Regions from separate parts of the Homo sapiens genome. Here region 2 is linked to region 1. Evidence: fine-mapped expression QTL. A gene starts in region 1. The other region holds a variant in brackets. All regions are shown on one strand. Distances are from middle to middle. Region 1 holds the start of FBXO46 (F-box protein 46). Region 2 overlaps QPCTL (glutaminyl-peptide cyclotransferase like).

Region 1 (11,138 bases):
TGCGGTGGCTCAACCCTGTAATTCTAGCACTTTGGAAGGCTGAAGTGGGTAGATCACTTGAGCTCAGGAGATCGAGACCAGCCTTGGCAGCATGTATTATTCATCTCTACAAAAATTACAAAAATTAGCCAGGTGTGGTGGCATGCCCCTGTAGTCCCAGCTATTTTGGAGGCTGAGGTGAGAGGATGGCGTAAGATCAGGAGGTGGAAGTCACAGTGAGCCAAGATAGTGCCACTGCATTCCAGCCCGGGCAACAGAGCCAGACCCTGTCTCAAAAAATAAATGAACAAATAAATAAATAACTAAAACACTTGTGGGCCAGGTGCGGTGGCTCACACCTGTAATCCCAGCAGTTTGGGCAGGTCGACAGCTTGAGTCTCATTGTTCAGGACTAGCCTAGGCAACATGGCAAAACCCTGTCTCTACAAAAATTTTTTTAAAAATTAGCCGGGCATGGTGGTGTGCGCCTGCAGTCCCAGCTACTTGGAAGGCTGAGGTGGGAGGATGGCTTGAGCCCGGGAGGTAGAGGTTGCAGGGAGCCGAGACTGTACCACTGCACTCCAACCTGGGCAATAGAGCCAGACTTTGTCTCAAAAACTTAAATAAAAATGAATAAATAAACACATGGACTACTTAAGGAATGAACCCCATTTTCCAGATTCAAAGTTGGGCACTCTGACTCCAGAGTGCATTTTTCTCCCTGTTTTCTTTTTGTTTTGTTGTTGCTTTGATTTTTTTGTTTGTTTGTTTGAGATGGTCTCGCTCTATCACCCAGGCTATAGTGCAATGGGGCAATCAGAGCTCACTGCACCTTCCACCTCCTGGGCCCAAGTGATCCTCCCGCCTCAACCTCCAGAGGTGCTGGGACTATAGGCTCATGCCACCAAGCCTGACTAATTTTTTAAAAAATTTATTTGAGGCTGGGTGCAGTGGCTCATGCCTGTAATTTCAACACTTTGGAAGGCCAAGACGGGCGGATCATTTGAGCATAGGAGTTCAAGACCAGCCTGGGCAACATAGTGAGAACCCGTCTCTACAAAAAAGATACAAAAATTAGCTGTGTGTAGTGGCATGCAACTGTAGTCCCAGCTATACTCAGGAGGCTGAGGTGAGAGGATCACTTGAGCCCGGGAAGTTGAGGCTGCAGTGAGCTGAGATCGCACCACCGCACTCCAGCCTAGGAGACAGAGCAAGACTCCATCTAACAACAACAACAAAAAAAATGGCTGGGCACGGTGGCTCACACCTGTAATTCTAGCACTTTGGAAGGTTGAGGCGGGTGGATCACTTGAGGCCAGGAGTTTGGCACCATCCTGGCCAACACAACGAAATCTCGTCTCTACTAAAAATATAAAAATTAGCAGGGCATAGAGGTGTACACCTGTAATCCCAGCTACTTGGGAGGCTGAGGCAGGAGAATTGCTTGAACCCAAGAGGCGGACGTTGCAGTGAGCCAAGATCATGCCACTGCACTCCAGCCTGGGCAACAAAACGAGACTGTCTAAAAAAAAAAAAATTGTTTGTAGAGATGAATTTTCCCTGTGTTGCCCAAGCTGATTTCAAACTCCTGAGTTCCACTGATCCTGCCACCCTGTTAATCCCAGCCTCCCACCTTGGCCTCCCAAAGTGCCAAGATTATAAGCATGAGCCACCTTGCCCAGCCTCAGTACCTTTTCTTGAAAGAATAAAAATCATAGAAAGACCTCACACTTATTGAGAGCATAATACACCCCAGGCATTTTATATATGCCACCTCATCAGTTACCACGTCAACTCCTTACGAGAAGCTCAGAGTTTAAATGTGGTCCCATTTTTACATGAGAATACTGAGGCTGGCTGGGCACTGGGGCTCATGCCTGTAACCCCAGCACTTTGGGAGGCCTAGGCGGGTGGATCACTTGAGGTCAGGAGTTCAAGATCAGCCTGGGCAACGTGGTGAAACGCTGACTCTACAAAAATTAGGCAGGTGTGGTGACACACGCTTGTAGTCCCAGCTACTCAGGAGGCTGAGGTGGGAGGATCCCTTGATCCTGGGAGGTGGAAGTTGCAGTGAGCCAAGATGATGCCCCTGCATGCCAGCCAGGGCAACAAAGTGAGACCCTGGTTCAAAACAAAAAAAAAGAAAAAAAAAAAGAGGTCGGAGCAGTGGCTCACGCCTGTAATCCCAACACTTAGGGAAGTCAAGGAGGGTGCATCACCTGAGGTCAGGAGTTCGAGACCAGCCTGGCCAAGATGGTGAAACCTCATCTCTACTAAAAATACAAAAATTAGCTGGGCGTGGTGACACAAGCCTGTAATCTCAGCTACGCAGGAGGCTGAGGCAGAAGACATCATTTGAACCCGGGAGGCGGAGATTGCAGTGAGCCAAGATCACACCACTGGCCTCCAGCCTGGACAACAGTGAGACTCTGTCTCAAAAAAAAAAAAAAAGGGAAAAGAAAACTGAGGCCCAGAGTGGGAATGCAGCTTGGCCAAGGTCACACAGCAACAGAAGCAGGGTTTTGACCCTGCGCCTCTCTGAAGCCAGTGTTTTCAACCATAAGCTTACTATCACAGCCAATGAATTAAGCCCAGAAAGCTCACAATAAACCAAACTGTTTCAAGGTGAATTTACAAAGTTGTCAAACTGCCCAATGAGGCCTTAATGACCCAAAAGTTAAACGAACAAAAGCAAACTAACAACAACAACAACAAGAAAAACCTAGTTAGAAATATTTTCTCTTCACTGAAACACCTGGAGTAAGGCCAGACTGGGTATTTGGCGGGGACAGGAATGGGAATGGGGACACACTGAGTTTCCTTGTTCTTTTTTTTTGAGACAGTCTCACTCTGTCGCCCAGGCTGGAGTGCAGTGGCACAATCTTGGCTCACTGCAACCTCCACCTCCTGGGTTCAAGAGATTCTCCTGCCTCAGGCTCCTGAGTAGCTGGGACTACAGGCGCCCGCCACCACGCCCAGCTAATAGAGATGGGGTTTTGCCATGTTGGCCAGGCTGGTCTTGATCAAACTCTTGGCCTCGGGCAATCTGCCCGCAATGGCCTCCCAAAGTGTTGGGATTACAGGCATGAGCCACCATGCCCAGCCCACAGATTGAGTTTGTAAGCACACTCTCCAGAAGTCGTAATTGGATTTAGGAGCCCAGAGGTGGAGGGCAGGGACATGGTGACAACATGAGAGAGAAAGGAGACAGCCTGACATCTTCCCTCTTGGTTCCTCTCTACTGCCTTCTCTTTCCCACTGACATTCAAAAACAACAACTCACACGTACTGAGCCCTTCCATAAGTATTGGAGTAAGGGCTCATAAAGTAAGTTCCACTATACTGCATTATCTTCCCGAAACTTCTCACCTTCCTAGGGTTACTGATCCCATTTTATAGGTGAGAAGAACCCAAAAGAAGAACCCTTGCCCAGGGCCAGGCGTGGTGGCTCACGCCTGCAATCCCAACACTTTTGGAGGTTGAAGCAGGAAGACCCCTTAAGCCTAGGAATTTGAGACCAGCCTGGGCAACAAAGTAAGACCCGCGTCTCTACAAAAATAAAAATAAAAAATTAGCCGTGTGTAATAAAAAATTAGTCCCAGCTACTTGGGAGGCTGAGGTGGGAGGATCGCCTGAGCCCAGGAGGTTGAGGCTGCAGTGAGTCATGATTGCGCCACTGCATTCCAGCCTGTCTGGGCAACAGAGCGAGACCCTGTCTTTAAAAAAATAAAAAGGCTGCGCGCAGTGGCTCACGCCTGTCATCCCAGCACTTTGGGACGCTGGGGCGGGCAGATCACCTGAGGTCGGGAGTTCAAGACCTGTCTCTACTAAAAATACAAAATTAACCAGACGTGGTGGCGCATGCCTGCAATCTCAGCTACTCGGGAGGCTGAGGCGGAGAATTGCTTGAACCCGGGAGGCGGAGGTTGCGGTGAGCCAAGATTGCACTCCGCCTGGGCAACAAGAGCGAAACTCCGCCTCAAAAACAAAACAAAACTAAACAAAAAACCATAAAAATAAATATAGGGCCAGGCGCAATGGCTCACGCCTGTTAATCCCAGCACTTTGGGAGGCCGAGGCGGGTGGATCACCTGAGGCCAGGAGTTCAAGACCAGCCTGACCAACATGCAGAAACCCTGTCTCTACTAAAACTACAAAAATTAGCCAGGGCGTGGTGGCACATGCTTGTAATCCCAACTACTCAGGAGGCTGAGGCAGGAGAATCGCTTGAACCCGGGAGGCAGAGGCTACAGTTAGCCATACCACTGCACTCCAGCCTGGGTGACAGAGGGAGACTGTCTCTAAATAAATAAATAAAAATAAATAAAAGACTTGCCTAAGGTCATATAGCAAGTAAATGGCAGAACTAATATTCTAGACTGCTTTGTTCGCTGTCTCTACTCATCACATTGTATATTTCAGTATGGAGAGAGGACTAAATTATAGTGCTGAAAGCACAGATTCTGAGCCAGGCTGCCAAGATCGGAATCCTGAGTCTAGCAATTAATGCTGGATAGCCTTGGGAAAGTTGCTTAATTTCTCTGTACTTCTGCTTCCTTTCTGTAAAATGGAGAAAATAACAGCACCTACCCCTCAGGGGTGTTATCAGAATTAAATGAGTTAATGTGTACAAACAGCTAAGGACAGGGCCAGGCATTTTGTAAAACAATAAGCGTTAGCTGTAATCCACAGTGGGGAGCCCCTACATGCTTCTGAGCTGGGGTGTGTGCCCAGATCAGTGCCAGCTTTTGAGAAAACGCCTCTGGGACTGGACTGGAAAGGAGGAAATCCATTAGCACCTGTAACCCAGTCACATTCCGGGGGCGGAGAACTTCCCACCAACAGCTCTGAGACTGAAACTTCACAGCCCAGCTCTCCCACTAATAGTAACGATTTTAATGACTCCCTTTAACCCTGTTCTCAGAGGCATGCTTGCTGTTCCCATACTACAGATAAGGGCACTGAGGCTCACAGATTTGTCCATGGCACAAAGGGGTGGAAGAATAGGGGATATGAATGCTGTACTTCTCATAGGGATAAACCATTACACTCTTCTAAATTCCACCGGGGAAGTGAGGGTGCGAAAGCCTGTCTCGATGGCCCTTTCTGGCCGTATTATCCTACAGTTCTGTGCCTGTCCAGCTTACCGGGAGTCTCTGGCGGGACTAGGGAAATTATCACTACATCCAGGCCCCTAATTTCACGCTCCTTACCCCACCCTCAGTCCTGGAGCCTAAACCCACACTCTATCCTACCACTGATTTCTCCCTCCTACCTCCTCAACTTGCCTTCCTGCCCCCAATCCGATCCAGAGGCCCCAACCCATTGCGTCCACCGTTCGCCTGTCCCTTGGAGCTTCCAGACCCCCTCACTCATCCTAACCCTGATCCTCATACCCTCGCCGCAGGTTAAGCCCCCATCGAAATCGACCCCTTCAGGGCCTCTACCTGGATGTCCAGCCCAGTCTCCAACTCGGGGCCCACTTCCCCAGCTCTGAGCCCCTTTACAATCAATTCCAAAGCTCCACTCCCACCCCACCTCCAAGACCCCTCCCCAAGCCACCATTCTTCTACTACTACCTCCGGCTCCCATTCCTCCCAGTCCTCTCCCCCAGGCAATCTCCCCTCACCCAGCCCCTTCTTTCGCCCCTGCCTCTTCCCCCTCGTCACCCGGTCCCGAACCCCCGTCCCGACTCTCCAGCGCCCCCGGCCCGCGCCTGGGCTCTCACCATCGCCGCGCGCTGCATCTCCCTCGGCTACGCGGGTTTCCCCCACTCGCTCCTCTCCAGCCTCCCCTTCCGGGTTCTCGTCCCGAAGCCCGCTGGGAATTGAAGTCCGGGCAGCCACGGACTACATCCCCCAGAAGGCAGCACGGTCAAGCTTGGAGGTGGGGTAGGAAGCAAATTAGGCGGGCGGAGGAAAAGAACGACTCGAACTCCCGGGAGACAAAGCCGGGGAGGACTTGGCAGCGCAAGCGCAGGGTGCTTCCCCGCTGGGCGCGCTGGGAGATGGAGTCTAGCCAGGAGGGCTCCATTTTTGCCCGAGGCCCTTGGGAAGGGAATTGAGAATATTGCAATAGGGTGTTGGTGAGGGGTGGAGAGTTGGGGAAGAGCAAATTTATTGATTCATTTGTGCCGATCAACACAATAGCTAACAGCTCCTTGTGCTTTTCCAAACTCCTTCCCATCCATCCCCTTCTTTTTTTTTTTTTTTTTGAGACGGAGTCTTGCTCTGTCACCCAGGCTGGAGTGCAGTGGCGCAATTTCGGCTCACTGCAACCTCCGCCTCCTGGGTTCAAGCGATTCTCCTGCCTGAGCCTCCTGAGTAGCTGGGATTACAGGAGCCCGCCACCACGCCCGGCTAGTTTTTGTATTTTTAGTAAAAACGGAGTTTCACCATGTTGGTCAGGCTGGTCTTGAACTCCTGACCTCATGATCCACCCGCCTCGGCCTCCCAAAGTGCTGGGATTACAGGCGTGAGCCACCGCGCCCGGCCCGTCCCCTCCTTTCTTACCTCCTGATTTACAAATGAGAAAATTAAGCCTTAGGAGGAAGGAAAGTCCCATACATTAGGAGTTAGTCCACATCATAGAATAGCAGCTCCACATCGCTCGAGCCCAGGAGTTCGAGGCAGTGAGCTAGTGTTACACCACCGCCCTCCATGCAGTTCAGCCTGGGCGACAGAATGAGACCCTGCTGCCTCTTAAAATAAAAGAAGGCCGGGCGCGGTGGCTCACGCCTGTAGTCACAGCACTTTGGGAGGCCGAGGCGGGCTGATCACAAGGTCAGGAGATCAAGACCATCCTGGCTAACACACTGAAACCCCATCTCTACTAAAAATACAAAAAATTAGCCGGGCTGGGTGGCGGGTGCCTGTAGTCCCAGCTACTCGGGAGGCTAAGGCAAGAGAATGGCGTGAACCCAGGAGGCGGAGCTTGCAGTGAGCCGAGATCGCGCCACTGCACTCCAGCCTGGGGGACAGAGCGAGATTCCGTCTCAAAAAAAAAAAAAAGAAGAAGAAGAAGAAGAAGCTCCAGGAGGGCAGAGATCTTTGTGTACCTTGTTCAAGCACCTAGAACAGCGTAAACATGTGTTCAGTAAATATTTATTGCATCGGAACTATATGCCAGACACCCTACAGACAACCCTGGTAGGAATTACAATCCCAAATTTATAAGGCAGAAAGAGATTAAGCCTCTTGTCGCTGGCAACACAGCCAAGAAAACGATTTGAACTGAAATGTATTGGATTTCAGGGTTTCTACTCTTGACTAGGTCGTTAGATCATCTCCCCTTAAGACGTATTTTCCAGGCTGGGTGCGGTGGCTCATGCTTATAATCTCAGCCGGGAGACTGGCTTTAGTCCAGGAGTTTAAGACCAAACTAGGCAGCAAAGTGAGACCCTCGTCTCTACCAAAAAAAAAAAAAAAAAAAGCCCAAATCTTTTATTCTTTTTCTTTCTTTTTTTTCCTTTTTTTTTTTTTTTTTTTTTTTGAGACAGAGTCTTGCTCTGTCGCCCAGGCTGGAGTGCAGTGGCGATACCAGCTCATTCAACCTCCACCTCCCAGGTTCAAATGATTCTCCTGCCTCAGCCTCTGGAGTAGTTGGGACTACAGGCGCGCCCCACCATGCCCGGCTAATTTTTGTATTTTTAGCCGAGACGGGGTTTCACCATTGTTGGCCAGGCTGGTCTGGAACTCCTGACCTCAAGTGATCCGCCCGCCTCGTCCTCCCAAGAAGGCCCAATTCAAATGGCCCTCCTCTTTGAATCCTTTCCCAACGTATTGTTCTCTGCATTAACCGAGTTCCCGTCTCACCGGATTCTCATGGTCTCGGAGGTTCTCACGGTCTTCTCGATTGTACTGGGAAGACAGTGGCTAAGTTCCCACCATCTAGCCTGGTGCTTGGCACACAGGAGGCCCTCATGAATCACGAACTGAAGGGAAAAGGTGGAAATGGGACATCATAGGGCCAGAAGGGACACAGGCGAGCTCGCTCTCTCTCTCTTCCTGAGAGTTGGCAGTTGAGGAAACCCAGCCTACTTGGGATGCAACGGCCCTGGACCACGCGGGTCGTGCAGGGGCGTGACCGCTTAAAAAGGCGGGTGGCTGAGCGGGCGCTGATTGGTCACCTAGCGGCTCACGCCGACCAAGGCCTTGTCAGAAGGCTCGAGGCCGAGCTCACGCTGTGCAAGACGACAGGGCCCTTCCCGAGGCGCGCGTGCGCACGGCCACTTGCACCCTGCCCTTTCAACCCCGTCGTCTCGTGCCCAGCACATCTTGGCTGGAACTGGTAGGGGCGTGGCCTGGCCTCAGGAACGCACTCTTGCTCTGCTCCTCACGCCTCGCGCAGGATCCTCGCGCCGGGAGGATTCGCACCCAACCCCAAGCCCGGTTGGGAACGTGGTGTCCGAGACCGTCTGGGATCCCCGCGCGCACGGCCGGCTTCCCGGGACCCGCGCGAGACGCTGTCTGATCGGGCTCCCTAGAGTGGGGCCCGGAGAAACCAGAACGGCGGGGGCAGCCTCACGCCATTTTGCACGCCCTGAGGCGGGTGCTGGAGGCCAAGGGGAATGGGGCGCGGGGCAGGGGGCCTCCCCCAGCACTAGCTGGGCTTAGGGGAACCCGGGATCCCCACAGGAGCTTCCCTCGGTGGGGGGCTCAGGGGAATAGAACATGCTCTGGGTGCAGGGCCACGGGCGACGGAGTTTGGGTTTGAAGCCGGGGGTCCAGGTTCGAGTTTGAGGAACGGAAGACTCTGTTTGTGTTGGGAATCCGGGCTCTCGAGTTCTGATCTGGGATCTCGGGATTTGTGTCTAGGGGTGACTAGTTCTGGAATCTGAAGAGCTTGAGTTTTGTGACTGGAAGCTTTCTCCTTGGAATCCAGAGATCCCAATTTGGGGATCTGGAAGTCTTAGTTCTGAGTTATGATGTAACATTTTGAGAGTCTGGAGCCTGATTTGGGGCAACTGAAGCCTCAGTATAGATTTAGGGCCTAAATCCCAATGTAGAGTATGAAGCTTTAGGATCTGGAGTCGCAGTTTGAGTCTTTAGAAGCACGTTTTAGGGCCTGGAGTGCCCACATTGAGTATGGGAGCTCCAGTTTTAGGGTCTGGGGTTTCAGAGTAGGACCCACATTCGAGATCTCAGTTTTAGGGTTGGGGCCACAATTTGAGGGACAGTTTGGACGTCTAAGAGGTCAATCTGGAGAAGTGAGATTTGTTTCATAGGGGCCTGGATTTCTTATCTTAGGATATAGGTTCATAGTGTTACAGCTTGCAGTCTGTAATCTTAGTATTAGGATCATATTTGAAGATCAGAAGTTGACAGTTTGAGGGTCTGGGGTATCTCAGTATTAGAATTTAGGGTTTGTAGGTTTGGGAGGGCTCCTTTTTTTTTGTTTTTGAGACAAGGTCTCACTTTGTCATCCAGGCTGGAGTGCAGTAGTGCGATTTTAGCTCACTGCAGCCTTGACCTCCTGGGCTCAAACCATCCCCCCACCTCAGGCTCCCAAGTAGCTGGGACTACAAGCATGTGCCACTATGCCCAGGTAATTTTTTTTTTTTTTTTGTAGAGGTGGAGTTTTGTCATATTGCCAGGCTGGTCTCAAACTCCTGAGATCAAGCAATCCTCCTGCCTTGGCCTCCCAAAGTGCTAGGATTACAGGCGTGAGCCACTGTACCTGGCTTTGGGAGGGCTCCAAAGTGAGGATTTAGGTCCTCATTTTGGGACTCTAAAGTATTAGTTTTAGTGCCTTTTTAGAGGTTTAGGGGTTTGTTTTTGTTTTTGTTTTTTGAGACACAGTCTCACTCTGTTGTCCAGGCTGGAGTGCAGTGGCTTAATCCTGGCTCAGTGCAACCTCCGCCTCCCAGGTTCAAGTGATTCTCCTGCCTCAGCCTCCCAAGTAGCTGGGATTACAGTCGTGCACCACCACGCCCGGCTAATTTTTGTATTTTTAGTAGAGATGGGGTTTCACCATGTTGGCCAGGCTGGTCTCAAACTCCTGACCTCGAGTGATTTGCCTGCCTCGGCCTCCCAGAATGCTGGGATTACAGGTGTGAGCTACCACTTCTGGCCAAGGTTTAGCTGTTTAATTTGGGTCTTTGGGCCCATAATTTGTTGGGGCTAGGGACTCTTATTTTGGGATCTCTGGGTGCTCAAAGGAGCATCATAGGGAAGATGAAGGGTGCCCATCAGGGTTCCTGCCCATCCTTCCTGCAATCCCAGAGGTCACTAATCATTCTTTTTCCCTCTTTGCAGATGTTTGGTTCCAGCAGATACTTGGGTTCCTCTGAACAGCCCAGAGCTAATTCACTGGGTCCCAGTGACAGGTAAGGGCTTGCCCCATCTCCCTTATAGCCCCAGCCACTCTCATTGAATAATAATAACAAAAACATTTGCTGAGCATTTACCGTTTGCTAGACTCTTTGCCAAACATTTTGTTTGTATGATAACTGTTAATCCATACAACAATCTCATGAGGAAGTTGTGTACAAAGATGCCTACCATTTTCCAGATGAGAGTACTCTGAGGTGATCGGCAAAGATCATTGCTTATTTATTTATTTATTTATTTTTGAGACAGGGTTTCACTCCTGTTGCCCAGGCTGGAGTGCAGTGTTGCGATCCCAGCTCACTGCAACCTCCGCCTCCTGAACTCAAGTGATTCTCCTGCCTCAGCCTCCCCAGTAGCTGGGACTACAGGCTCATGCCTCCATGCCTGGCTAATTTTTGTATTTTTTGTAAAGATAGGGTTTTGCCATTTTCCCCAGGCTAGTCTTCAACTCCTGGCTTCAAGTGATCTGCCTGTCTCAGCCTCCCAAAGTGCTGGGATTACAGGTGTAAGCCACCATGCCCAGCCCATTTCTTTTTTTATTTTTAGGGCAAAGATAACTTCTAAGGTCCTTGCAGCCTGTGACATTCTGAGTTTGTTTGTTTTCAGAGTTAGGGTATCACTCTGTTGCCCACGTTAGAGTGCAGTGGTGGCATCATAGCTCACTATAGCCTCGGACTCCTGGGTTTGAGCCTGGGCTTGATCCTCCTGCTTCAGCCTTCCGAACAGCTAAGATTACAGGCACATGCCACCACACCCAGCCAGTTTTTCTATTTGTTGTAGTGACAGGGTCTTGCTATGTTGCACAGGCCTGTCTTGAACTTCTGGCCT
Region 2 (11,138 bases), 27 kb before region 1:
TTTGCCAGGCCAGTTCCTACCCATTCTCATGGCAAACATCCCTTCCCAAAAGACCCAACGCCCTCTCCAGGCCAGGTCATCCCCCAGCCTCCTTCCTATGCCCTCTCAGGACTCTATAGTTCTTAGAAGCATTTGTCTCAACTGCATTTCACTGTTTGTATAATTATTCATTTGTGGATCTATCTGGTTCACCAAACTGAGCTTGAGGAATAATAATCAGAGATAACCCTTATTTAGTTATATGCCAGGCACTGTTCTAAGACCTGGATTCAAACCTTACCCTTTGAAAAGAACTGTTATTGCCGGGCGCGGTGGCTCACATCTGTAATCCCAGCACTTTGGGAGGCTGAGGTAGGTGGATCATTTGAGGTCAGGAGTTCGAGACCAGCCTGGCCAACATGGTGAAAGCTTGTCTCTACTAAAAATACAAAAATTAGCCAGGCATGATAGCGGGAACCTGTGGTCACAGCTGTATGGGAGGCTGAGGCAGGAGAATCTCTTGAACCTGGGAGGTAGGGGGTGGAGGTTGCAGTGAGTCAAGATTGCATCATTCCACTCCAGCCTGGGTGACAGAGCAAGATTTATTCTAAAAAAAACAAAAAACAAAAAAAAAACAAAAAACCTCTTATTAACCCCATTTATAGATGAAGAAACTGATCCTTCCAGAAGTTAGTAACTTCCCCATGCCTGCTTTGTTATGAAGCAGCCAAGTACGGATTTGATCCCAGACAACTGACTCGGAATCTGTGCTCTTGGCTACCACGTTCTATGAGTGAGGACACCTTATGTGTTCTCTTAAGCATGCAAGCGGGCAAGAAGTGTGGGTATGTTGAGGCTGAGGGCTAGTCCTGAGCTGGCTCTGGCCACCCCCCTGCTGCTCCCACAGGCAGCCCCGGTGACCCTGCAACTGCTCTTCTTGGATGGTGAAGAGGCGCTGAAGGAGTGGGGACCCAAGGACTCCCTTTACGGTTCCCGGCACCTGGCCCAGCTCATGGAGTCTATACCTCACAGCCCCGGCCCCACCAGGATCCAGGCTATTGTAAGACCAGGGTCCCCTGGCTTCTGGCGAGGGAGGGAGCAGGTTAAGCAGGGCTGGCGTCATCCTGCACGGGCCCCTCCAGTCCTAGCCTTTCTCCTTAGGAGCTCTTTATGCTTCTTGATCTCCTGGGAGCCCCCAATCCCACCTTCTACAGCCACTTCCCTCGCACGGTCCGCTGGTTCCATCGGCTGAGGAGCATTGGTAAGGGTGAATGCGGAGGTGGGCCCCAGCCCACCTGGGGTATGGGGTACAGGGCGGTGGGCTGGGGTAGGACAGGCACCTACACTCTAAAGGCTCATCCACCAGTCTGGGCCACATAGGGAGACCCCATCTTTTTTTTTTTTTTTTTTTTGAGATGGAGTCTCGCTCTGTCACTGAGACTGGAGTGCAGTGGCATGATCTTGGCTCACTGCAACCTCCACCTCCCAGGTTCAAGCCATTCTCCTGCCTCAGCCTCCCGAGTAGCTGGGACTACAGGCGCATGCCACCATGCCCAGCTAATTTTTGTATTTTAGTAGAGACAGAGTTTCACTATGTTGGCCAAGCTGGTCTTGAACTCCTGACCTCGTGATCCGTCCACCTCAGCCTCCCAAAGTGCTGGGATTACAGGCGTGAGCCACCGTGCCTGGTGACCCCATCTCTTAAAAAAAAATTAGCTGGGTGCAGTGGCATGCACCTGTCATCCCAGCTACTGGGGAGTATCCTTAGAGCCTGGGAGGTCAAGGCTATAGTGAGCCAAGATTGCGCCACTGCACTCCAGCCTGGGCAACAGAATGAGATCCTGTCTCAAAAAAATAAAAAATAAAAATAAAATAAAGGCTGGGCTTGGTGGCTCACACCTGTAATCCCAGCACTTTGAGAGGCAGGTGGATCACTTGAGCTCAGGAGTTTCAGACCAGCTTGGGCAATATGGCGAAACCCTGTCTCTACAAAATAAAAACAAACATTAGGCCAGGCGCGATGGCTCACACCTGTAATCCCAGCACTTTGGGAGGCCAAAGCGGGTGGATCACCTGAGGTTAGGAGTTTGAGACCAGCCTGGCCAACAGGGCGAAACCCCATCTCTACTAAAAATACAAAAAGTTAGCTGGGCGTGGTGACATGTGCCTGTAATCCTAGCTATTCGGGAGGCTGAAGCAGGAGAATGGCTTGAACCTGGGAGGCGGAGGTTGCAGTGAGCCGAGATCACGCCACTGCACTCCAGCCTGGGCAACAGAGCGAGACTCCATCTCAAAAAAAAAAAAAAAAAAAATTAGCCAGGCATGGTGGCACCTGCCTGCAGTCCCAGTGACTTGGGAGGCTGAAGTGGTAGGATCACTTGAGTCTGGGAGGTCGAGGCTGCAGTAAGCTGTGATCACACCACTGCACTCCAGCCTGGGGACAGAGTGAGACTCTGTCTCAAAAAAAAGTAATAATAAAAATTAAAATTAAAAAAATTAAAAATTGTTTTTAAAAATAAAGGCTTGGCTGGGCGCAATGGTTCACGCCTGTAATCCCAATACTTTGGGAGACTAAGGTAGGTGGATCACAAGGTCAGGAGTTTGAGACCAGCCTGGCGAATATGGTAAAACCCTATCTCTACTAAAAATACAAAAATTAGCTGGGTGTGGTAGCGTGTGCCTGTAGTCCTAGCTACTCCGGAGGCTCAGGCAGAAGAATCGCTTGTACCTGGGAGCACAGGTTGCAGTGAGCTGAAATTGTGCCACTGCACTCCAGCCTGGGTGACAGAGCGAGACTCTGTCACTAAATAAATAAATAAATAAACAAATAAATAAATAAGAAAATAAAATAAAGGCTCACCCAGCCTTTCCTCTACCTCCCTAGCCTTTCTAAGGAACTAGAGATTAGTAATAGTGATTACCAGACAGGGGCTCTAAGGTGAGACAGCCGTGGTTTCCAATCTTACCAGCTGGATGAACTTGGACAAGTGGCTTCATTTCTTTGAGCCTCAGTTTCCTATCTGTAAAACGGCCAGTGGGGGCCGGGCCTGGTGGCTCATGCCTGTAATCCCAGCACTTTGGGAGGCCGAGGTGGGCGAATCACAAGGTCAGCAGTTCGAGACCAGCTTGGCCAATATGGTGAAACCCCATCTCTACTAATAATACACAAATTAGCTGGGTGTGGTGGTGGGCGCCTGTACTCCCAGCTACTCAGGAGGCTGAGGCAGGAGAATTGCTTGAACCCGGGAGGCGGAGGTTGCAGTGAGCCGAGATTGTGCTACTGCACTCCAGCCTGGCGACAGAGCAAGACTCTGTCTCAAAAAAAAAAAAAAAAAAAAGGCCGGAGGGCCCAGACATAGTGGCTCATGCCTGTAGTCCCAGAAATTTGAGTGACCAAGGCAGGAAGATCACATGAACCCAGAAGTTTGAGGCCAGCCCGGGCAACACAGGAAGATCCCATTTCTACACACACGCGCACACACACACACACACACAATTACCCAGGCATGGGGGCATGCGCCTGAAGTCCTAGCTATTTGGGAGGCTGAGACTGAAGGATCACTTAGGCCAGCGAGATTAAGGCTGCACTGAGCTGGGATTGTCCCACTGCACTCCAGTGTGGGTGAGAGAGCAAGATCTTTTTTTTTTTTTTTGGAGACAGAATCTTACTCTGTCACCCAGGCTGGAGTGCAGTGGTGCAATCTCAGCTCACTGCAACCTCCACCTCCCAGGTTCAAGCAATTCTCCTGCCTCAGCCTCCCAAGTAGCTGGGATTACAGGCGCCCACCACCACACCCAGCTAATTTTTGTATTTTTAGTAGAGACAGGGTTTCACCATGTTGGCCAAGCTGGTTTCGAACTCCTGACCTCAGGTGATCCACCTGCCTTGGTCTCCCTAAGTGCTGGGATTACAGGCATGAGCCACCACACCAGGCCACAAGATCTTGTCTCAAAAAAAAGAATGTCTATGTCTTAGACTCTGAGGGATTGAATGAGACCAGGAACATAGTGAGCCCACAGGAAGGAGTAACTGGCATTCACTCTTGTTGGGCTGACCAGGGCTTTGTCTCTGGGTGCTCTGCCTTCCTCTGATTTGTGGACTGGGGACCTTCGACTACTAAGGACTAACCCTTCCTCTCTAATCGCCCCCACTTCCAGAGAAGCGTCTGCACCGTTTGAACCTGCTGCAGTCTCATCCCCAGGAAGTGATGTACTTCCAACCCGGGGAGCCCTTTGGCTCTGTGGAAGACGACCACATCCCCTTCCTCCGCAGAGGTACCAGCTGCAGGGAGGGATGGAGGGTGGGTGTCCAAGGAAGCCACAAATTGGAACTGGCCAAGTCCCCTTCCCAGGGCTGGGGAATGGTGCTAAGTGGCCTTAACCTCTTTGTGCTTTGATTTATTCATCTGTAAAATGGGGATAATACTCCCTATCTTAGAGTATTGTTGAGGGGATTGAACATGCTAACACCGGTAAAGACCTTACTTGGACCAGCACCCAGCACATAGCAAGCATTCCAGAAATGTTTGCAGCTGGGCACGGTGGTTCACAGCTGTAATCCCAGCACTTTGGGAGGCTGAGCGGGGTGGCGGGGGGGGATCCTTGAGCCCAGGAGTTTGAAACCAGCCTGGGCAACATGGCATAAATCTTGTCTTTACTAAAAATACAAAAAAATTAGCCGGGCATGGTGGTTCACACCTATAGTCCCAGCTACTCGAGAGGCTGAAGTGGGAGGAGCACTTGGGCCTGGGAAGTCAAGGCTGCAGTAAGCCTTGATTGAGCCACTGCACTCTAGCCTGGACAACAGAGGGTGATGATATCTCAAAAAAAAAAAAAGTGCCAGGCTGGGCATGGTGGCTCACACCTGTAATCCTAGCACGTTGGGAGCCTGAGGCGGGCAGATCACCTGAGGTCAGTAGTTTGAGACCAGCCTGGCCAACATGATGAAACCCCATCTCTACTAAAAATACAAAAATTAGACAGGTGTCGTGGTGCCTGCCTATAATCCCAGCTACCCGGGAGGCTAAGACGGTAGAATCGCTGGAACCTGGGAGGCAGAGGCTGCAGTGAGCCGAGATCACGCCACTGCACTCCAGCCTGGGCGACAGAGTGAGACTCTGTCTCAAAAAAAAAAAAAAAGTGCCAGAACATAGTATCTTTCACCAGTGTGTGGTGGCAAGGCAAGGTTACCTAGAGGTTGGGCTTGGGCTCCTGGGTTGTGGTGGGCTGCAGTGGACCTGACAAAGTCTCCTCTGTCACTTCAGGGGTACCCGTGCTCCATCTCATCTCCACGCCCTTCCCTGCTGTCTGGCACACCCCTGCGGACACCGAGGTCAATCTCCACCCACCCACGGTACACAACTT[G/A]TGCCGCATTCTCGCTGTGTTCCTGGCTGAATACCTGGGGCTCTAGCGTGCTTGGCCAATGACTGTGGAGAGGACTGTGAGAGAGAAGGTCCCAGCGGGGGCCAGTGAAGCTCAGGCAGGATCTGCCTAGGGTGTGCTGGTTTGTCCTTTTCATACCTTTGTCTCCTAATTGTGCTACAATTGGAAGACCTTCTTTCTTTTGATTGTCTCAAGCTGCCACCCTTCAAGGACAGGGAAGAGACCACTGTGGGATGACAGCCAGAGGAATAAGAACTTGCTCCCTCCCCAGAGGTAAACACTTGGTCCAAAGGTTTGCAGGGACCAAATACTGTTCTTTTTTTTTTTGAGACGGAGTCTCACTGTGTTGCCCAGGCTGGAGTGCAGTGGTGCGATCTCGGCTCACTGCAAACTCCGCCTCCTGGGTTCACGCCATTCTCCTGCCTCAGCCTCCCAAGTAGCTGGGACTACAGGTGCCCGCCACCACGCTGGCTAATTTTTTGTATTTTTAGTAGAGACGGGGTTTCACCGTGTTAGCCAGGATGGTCTCGATCTCCTGACCTTGTAATCCGCCAGCCTCGGCCTCCCAAAGTGCTGGGATTACAGGTGTGAGCCACCGCACCTGGCAAAATGCTGTTCTTTAAGTCAGCGAACTGAAAAAGTAAAAGACTGCTGGGTGTGGTGGCTCACACCTGTAATCCCAACACTTTGAGAGGCTGAGGGGGAAGGATCACCCGAGGTCAGGAGTTTGAGACCAGCCTGGTCAACATGGCGAAACCCTGTCTCTACTAAAAATACAATAATTAGCTGGGCATGGTGGTGGGCGCCTGTAATCTCAGCTGCTTGGGAGGCTGAGGCAGGAGAATCACTTGTACGCAGGAGGCGGAGGTTGCAGTGAGCCAAGATCACACCACTGCACTCCAGCCTGGGCAACAGAGCGAGACTCCATCTCAATAAATAAATAAATAAATAAATATTTTTTAAAAAGAGTAAAAGACTAAAAGACTATTACTGGTCTGGCCCAGTGATGCCACCCAGCTAGATGAATTCTCTGTGGTTTGTGTTGTGTCAGTTCATTCTCCAGAACAGCAGCCTTGCTACTGCACCAGTCCTAACCTAACTCCCACACGGGGCACACAGAGGATGTCCTCATAACCAGGCACAGAGGAGACAGAAGCTCATATTTTGGAAGTCCAGATTCTTCCAGACCCAGTGGGTAATAAGCCATTGTTTCTGGCTGGGCATGGTGGTTCACACCTGTAATCCCAGCTCTTTGGGAGTCAGAGGCAGAGGGATAGCTTGAGCTCAGGAGTTTGAGACCAGCCTGGGCAACAGAGCATGACCCCATTCTCCAGAAAAAAGAAAGAAAAAAAAAAGCGTAACCAATGTTTCTGCAAAACACCACCTGCATAAGCCAGGTGTGGTGGTGCACACCCTGTAGTCTCAGCTATTCAGGAGGCTGAGGTGAGAGAATCCCATGAACCCAAGAGTTCAAGACCAGCCTGGGCAACACAGTGACACCCTGTCTCAAAACAAACACCACCACCACCAACAACAACAAAAAAGGCCATTCTGTAGAACTCGTGTAAATAGACATTGCATGACAAGGGGGATCTGAAATCCAAGAAGAGGGTGAGACAACATAAAATGAGTTTCCTCACTGCATCATGTGAATTTTTAAGACAGAACCCAGAGGCTCCCAAAGTATTTCACTATGGAACACTTTTTATTGGGAAGCACTTCATAGAACTAGGATACTTCGGCCGGGCATGGTGGGTCACACCTGAAATCCCAGCACTTTGGGAGGCCGAGGCCAGCAGTTCAGCTGAGCTCAGGAGTTCGAGAGCAGCCTGGACAACATGATGAAACCCCATCTCTACTAAAAATACAAAAATTAGCCAGGTGTGGTGGCATGAGCCTGTAATCCCAGCTACTTGGGAGGCTGAAACAGGAGAATTGTTGGAACCTGGTGGCAGAGGCTACAGTGAGCCAAAATCACGCCACTGCACTCCAGCCTGGGCAATAGAGCGAGGCTGTCTCAACAAACAAACAAAATACAACAACAACAAAAAGAACTAGGATACCTCAGAAGGTACTTTGGAAAACATGGGGTTTTGAAAGTCTGAGAGCATCTATGAGAGGAATGGGTAAGACAGATCTAGATTTACCGCAGAGTAGTTAGGGCACACTGTCTTTCCCCTTCAGCTGTTGGTACAGCACTGTGAGATGGCAGTGTAACTGCAAACTCCAATGAGCAAGTATTTCCCAACCCTACCTAATTTTCAGACTCAGCTGGGGTGCTCATTAAAAAATGCAGACTGGGTGCAGTGGCTCATGGCTGCAATCTCAGCACTTTGAGAGGTTGAAGTGGGAGGATCACTTGAGCCCAGGAGGTTTTTCTTTTTGAGGCGGAGTCTCGCTCTGTCACCCAGGCTGGAGCGCAGTGCTGCAATGCTGGCTCACTGCAACCTCCGCCTCCCGGGTACGAGCGATTCTCCCGCCTCAGTCTCCCAAATAGCTAGGACTACAGGTGCGTGCCACCACGCCTGGCTAATGTTTGTATTTTTAGTAGAGACAGGGTTTCACCGTGTTAGCCAAGATGGTCTCGATCTCCTGACCTCGTGATCCGCCTGTCTCGGCCTCCCAAAATGCTGGGATTACAGGCGTGAGCCACCGTGCCTGGCCCACGCTGTCCTTAAGGAGACACTTTGGTGCATACACAGCTGCTCAGCAAACCGACTCAAAAGAAAAACCTGAGACAGATGGCACCTGGAAGCAGTCCTACGCTGTGTAGGTGAGCATCTGCCCTCCAAATCAGCTCCAGGGCTGAAACTCGGGGTATCAAATGAGAGGATAAACATAGGTCCTCAATTTAGGTTCTTCCACATTCGCTGACATTTATTGAGCATCTACTATGTGCCAGGCATCATGAGAACTTTTTTTTTTTTTTAAGATGGAGTTTCGCTCTTGTCACCCAGGCTGGAGTTGCAGTGGCACAATCTCGGCTCACTGCAACCTCCACCTCCTGGGTTCAAGCGATTCTTCTTCATCAGCCTCTGGAGTAGCTGATTACAGGCATGTGCTACCATGCCCAGCTAATTTTTGTATTTTCTTGGTTTGGGGGAGAGAGTCTTACTCTGTCGCCCAGGCTGGAGTACAATGGCGAGATCTCAGCTCACTACAAACTCCACCTCCTGGGTTCAAGCGATTCTCCTGCCTCAATCTCCCAAGTAGCTGGGAATACAGGCACCTGCCACCATGCCCTGCTAATTTTTGTACTTTTTAGTAGAGATGGGACCATGTTGATCAGGTTGGTCTTGAACTCCTAACCTCAGGTGATCCACCTGCCTCGGCCTCCCACAGTGCTGAGATTACAGGCATCGAGCCACCATGCCTGGCCAATTTTTGCATATTTAGTAGAGATGAGTTTTGCCATGTTGGCCAGGCTGGTCTTGAACTCCTGACCTCAGGTGTCCACCCGCCTTGGCCTCCCAAAGTGCTGAGATTACAGGCGTGAGCCACCGTGCCCAGCCCATGAGAACTTTTTTTTTTTACATATACAAAACTATGTAGTCTCCCTGACTACAAATCCTGAAATAGGTACAATTTCAGTTCTCATTTTGCAGGTGAGGTGGCTGAGACTGAGAATTGCAAACGAGTTGTGTATGGTGTGCAAATTTTCACTCACAGCTGTGCTCGCAACCCCCATGTCCTATCTCCCTTCCAAAAAGTACCTGTGGCTGGGTGCGGTCACTCACCCCTGTAATCCCAGTCCTTTGGAAGGTTGAGGCAGGAGGACTGTTTGAGCCCAGAAGTTCCCGACCAGCCTGGGCAACAAAGACCCTGTCTCTACAAAAAAAATTAAAATTAGCTAGTATGGTGCCTGTGGTCCCAGCTACTTGGGAGGCTGAGGCAGGAGGATCTCCCGAGCCCAGGAGTTTGAGGTTACAGTCAGCTATGATTGTGTCACTGCACTCCGGCCTGGGTGACAGAATGAGACCCTGTCTCAAAAAAATAAAAATAAAAATACCCCAAATACACCCCCACCACTACCAAAAAAAAAAATACACTTGTGCCAGATGAAATTTGTTAAGAAAAAGTATCCATAGAATTTTAACTTTAATCTGCTTTATGCAGATTTTTGGCTTGAATCTGGGGTAAGAACTGTTAGCCCTGTTGTACAGATGAGGCTGCTGGTGCCTGGCAAGTTCCCGCAGCCAGCAAACCCTTTTATCTTTTTTTTTTTTTTTTCTAGACAGAGTCTCGCTCTGTCGCTCAGGCTGGAGTGCAGTGGCACGACCTCAGTTCAGTGCAACCTCTGGCTCCCGGGCTCAAGCAATTCTTCTGCCTCAGCCTCCCGAGTAGCTGGGACTACAGCCACACGCCACCACGCCCGGCTGATTTTTGTATTTTTAGTAGAGACAGGGTTTCACTGTATTGGCCAGGCTGGTCTCAAATTCCTGATGTCACAATCCACCGCCTCGGCCTCCCGAAGTGCTGAGATTACAGGCATGAGCCACTGTGCCCAGCCTTGCATTTTTCATTTGTAAAAGTTATGTCAGTGGGTTTTTTTTCCCTTTCCTACCTACTAGGCCATTTTGATTTTTTTTTTTTTTTTTTTTTTTAGTTTTGGCTTCCTTGCTGATAATTCCAAGCTTTTAAAATTTTTAAACAGTTTAAAATAAATTTTGTATTATAATCTGTGATTGACAGTTTCATCATGTGAAGCCTATGTGGGTGTTTTTGTTGTTTCTGCTGGTTCTTATTCATATTATTTCCATTTGTTTGGTTATTTGTGTACTACTCATTACCTGAAAAATTATTTGTGGTGGGCTGGGTGCGGTGGCTCACACCTGTAATCCCAACACTTTGGGAGACCAAGGCGGGCAGACTGCTTGAGGTCAAGAGTTCAAGACCAGCCTGGCCAACATGGTGAAACCCCATCTCTACCAAAAAAAAAAAAAAAAAAAAAAAAAAATTGCTGGGCGTGGTGGTGGGTCCCTGTAATCCCAGCTACTTGGGAAGCCTAGGCAGTAGAATCGCTTGAACCGGGGAGGCGGAGGTTGCAGTGAGCTGAGATTGTGCCACTGCACCGTAGCCTAGGCAACAGTGAGACTCCATATCCAAAAAAAAAAAAAAAAAAAAAAAAAAAGCCAGGCGTGGTGGCTCACACCTGTAATCCCAGCACTTTGGGAGGCCAAGGTGGGTCAGGAGTTCAAGACCAGACTGGCCAACATGGTGAAACCTTGTCTCTACTAAAAATACAAAAAATTAGCCAGGTGTGGTGGTGCGCACCTGTAGTTCCAGCTACTTGGCAGGTGAGGCAGGAGAATCACTTGAACCCAGGAAGCAGAGGTTGCAGTGTGCCGAGATCGCGCCACTGCGCTCCAGCCTGGGCAACAAGAGCGAAACTGCATCTCAAAACAAACAAACAAAAATATTTGTGGGGCTTCTAGATGACAGTTCCTTCCACAGGTGGACTTGTGTTTGTTTCTGCCAGACATGTCAGCTAGAAGTACCCTGTATCACACAGGACGTGAACCTGGCTGCGAACCTGTGCCGAGGGCCAGTCTGTGACCACAGATTATCAGAATCTTTCTTTTTTTTTCATTTGATTTCTGCCTCTTGAATACCTCTTCAGTCTTCCGGGTCATCCTTACCTGAGCTTGTAGCTCTCTGGAATCCCAGTTCCTGCAGTTGCTCACTGTGGGCTGGCTTTGGACTTGACTTTTGCCTGCTCCTTCCAGTAAGGCTGCCAAGTAGGAAACCCCAGTGTGTCCACATCAGCAAACACCCTG

What was found.
Region 2: its variant is fine-mapped to the expression of FBXO46 in whole blood (TOPMed, PIP above 0.99).

What each region holds. Positions count from the first base shown.
Region 1 is chr19:45,725,142-45,736,279 of GRCh38, forward strand. It overlaps FBXO46 (F-box protein 46), which reads right to left and starts at 5,755. Exons shown (of 2, transcript NM_001080469.2): 1 at 5,708-5,755. It overlaps MEIOSIN (meiosis initiator), which reads left to right and starts at 8,298. Exons shown (of 15, transcript NM_001310124.2): 1 at 8,298-8,525; 2 at 10,236-10,306. The coding sequence starts at 10,236. RefSeq lists a silencer at 4,610-4,904 and enhancers at 5,753-5,862, 5,953-6,082.
Region 2 is chr19:45,697,661-45,708,798 of GRCh38, forward strand. QPCTL (glutaminyl-peptide cyclotransferase like) reads left to right here. Exons shown (of 7, transcript NM_017659.4): 4 at 887-1,039; 5 at 1,141-1,240; 6 at 4,138-4,254; 7 at 5,244-6,327. The coding sequence ends at 5,389. Among named protein-coding and RNA genes, the nearest start is that of QPCTL, 11 kb to the left of the region's middle. RefSeq lists an enhancer at 9,270-9,499. The variant G/A (reference allele first, on the strand shown) is at 5,344.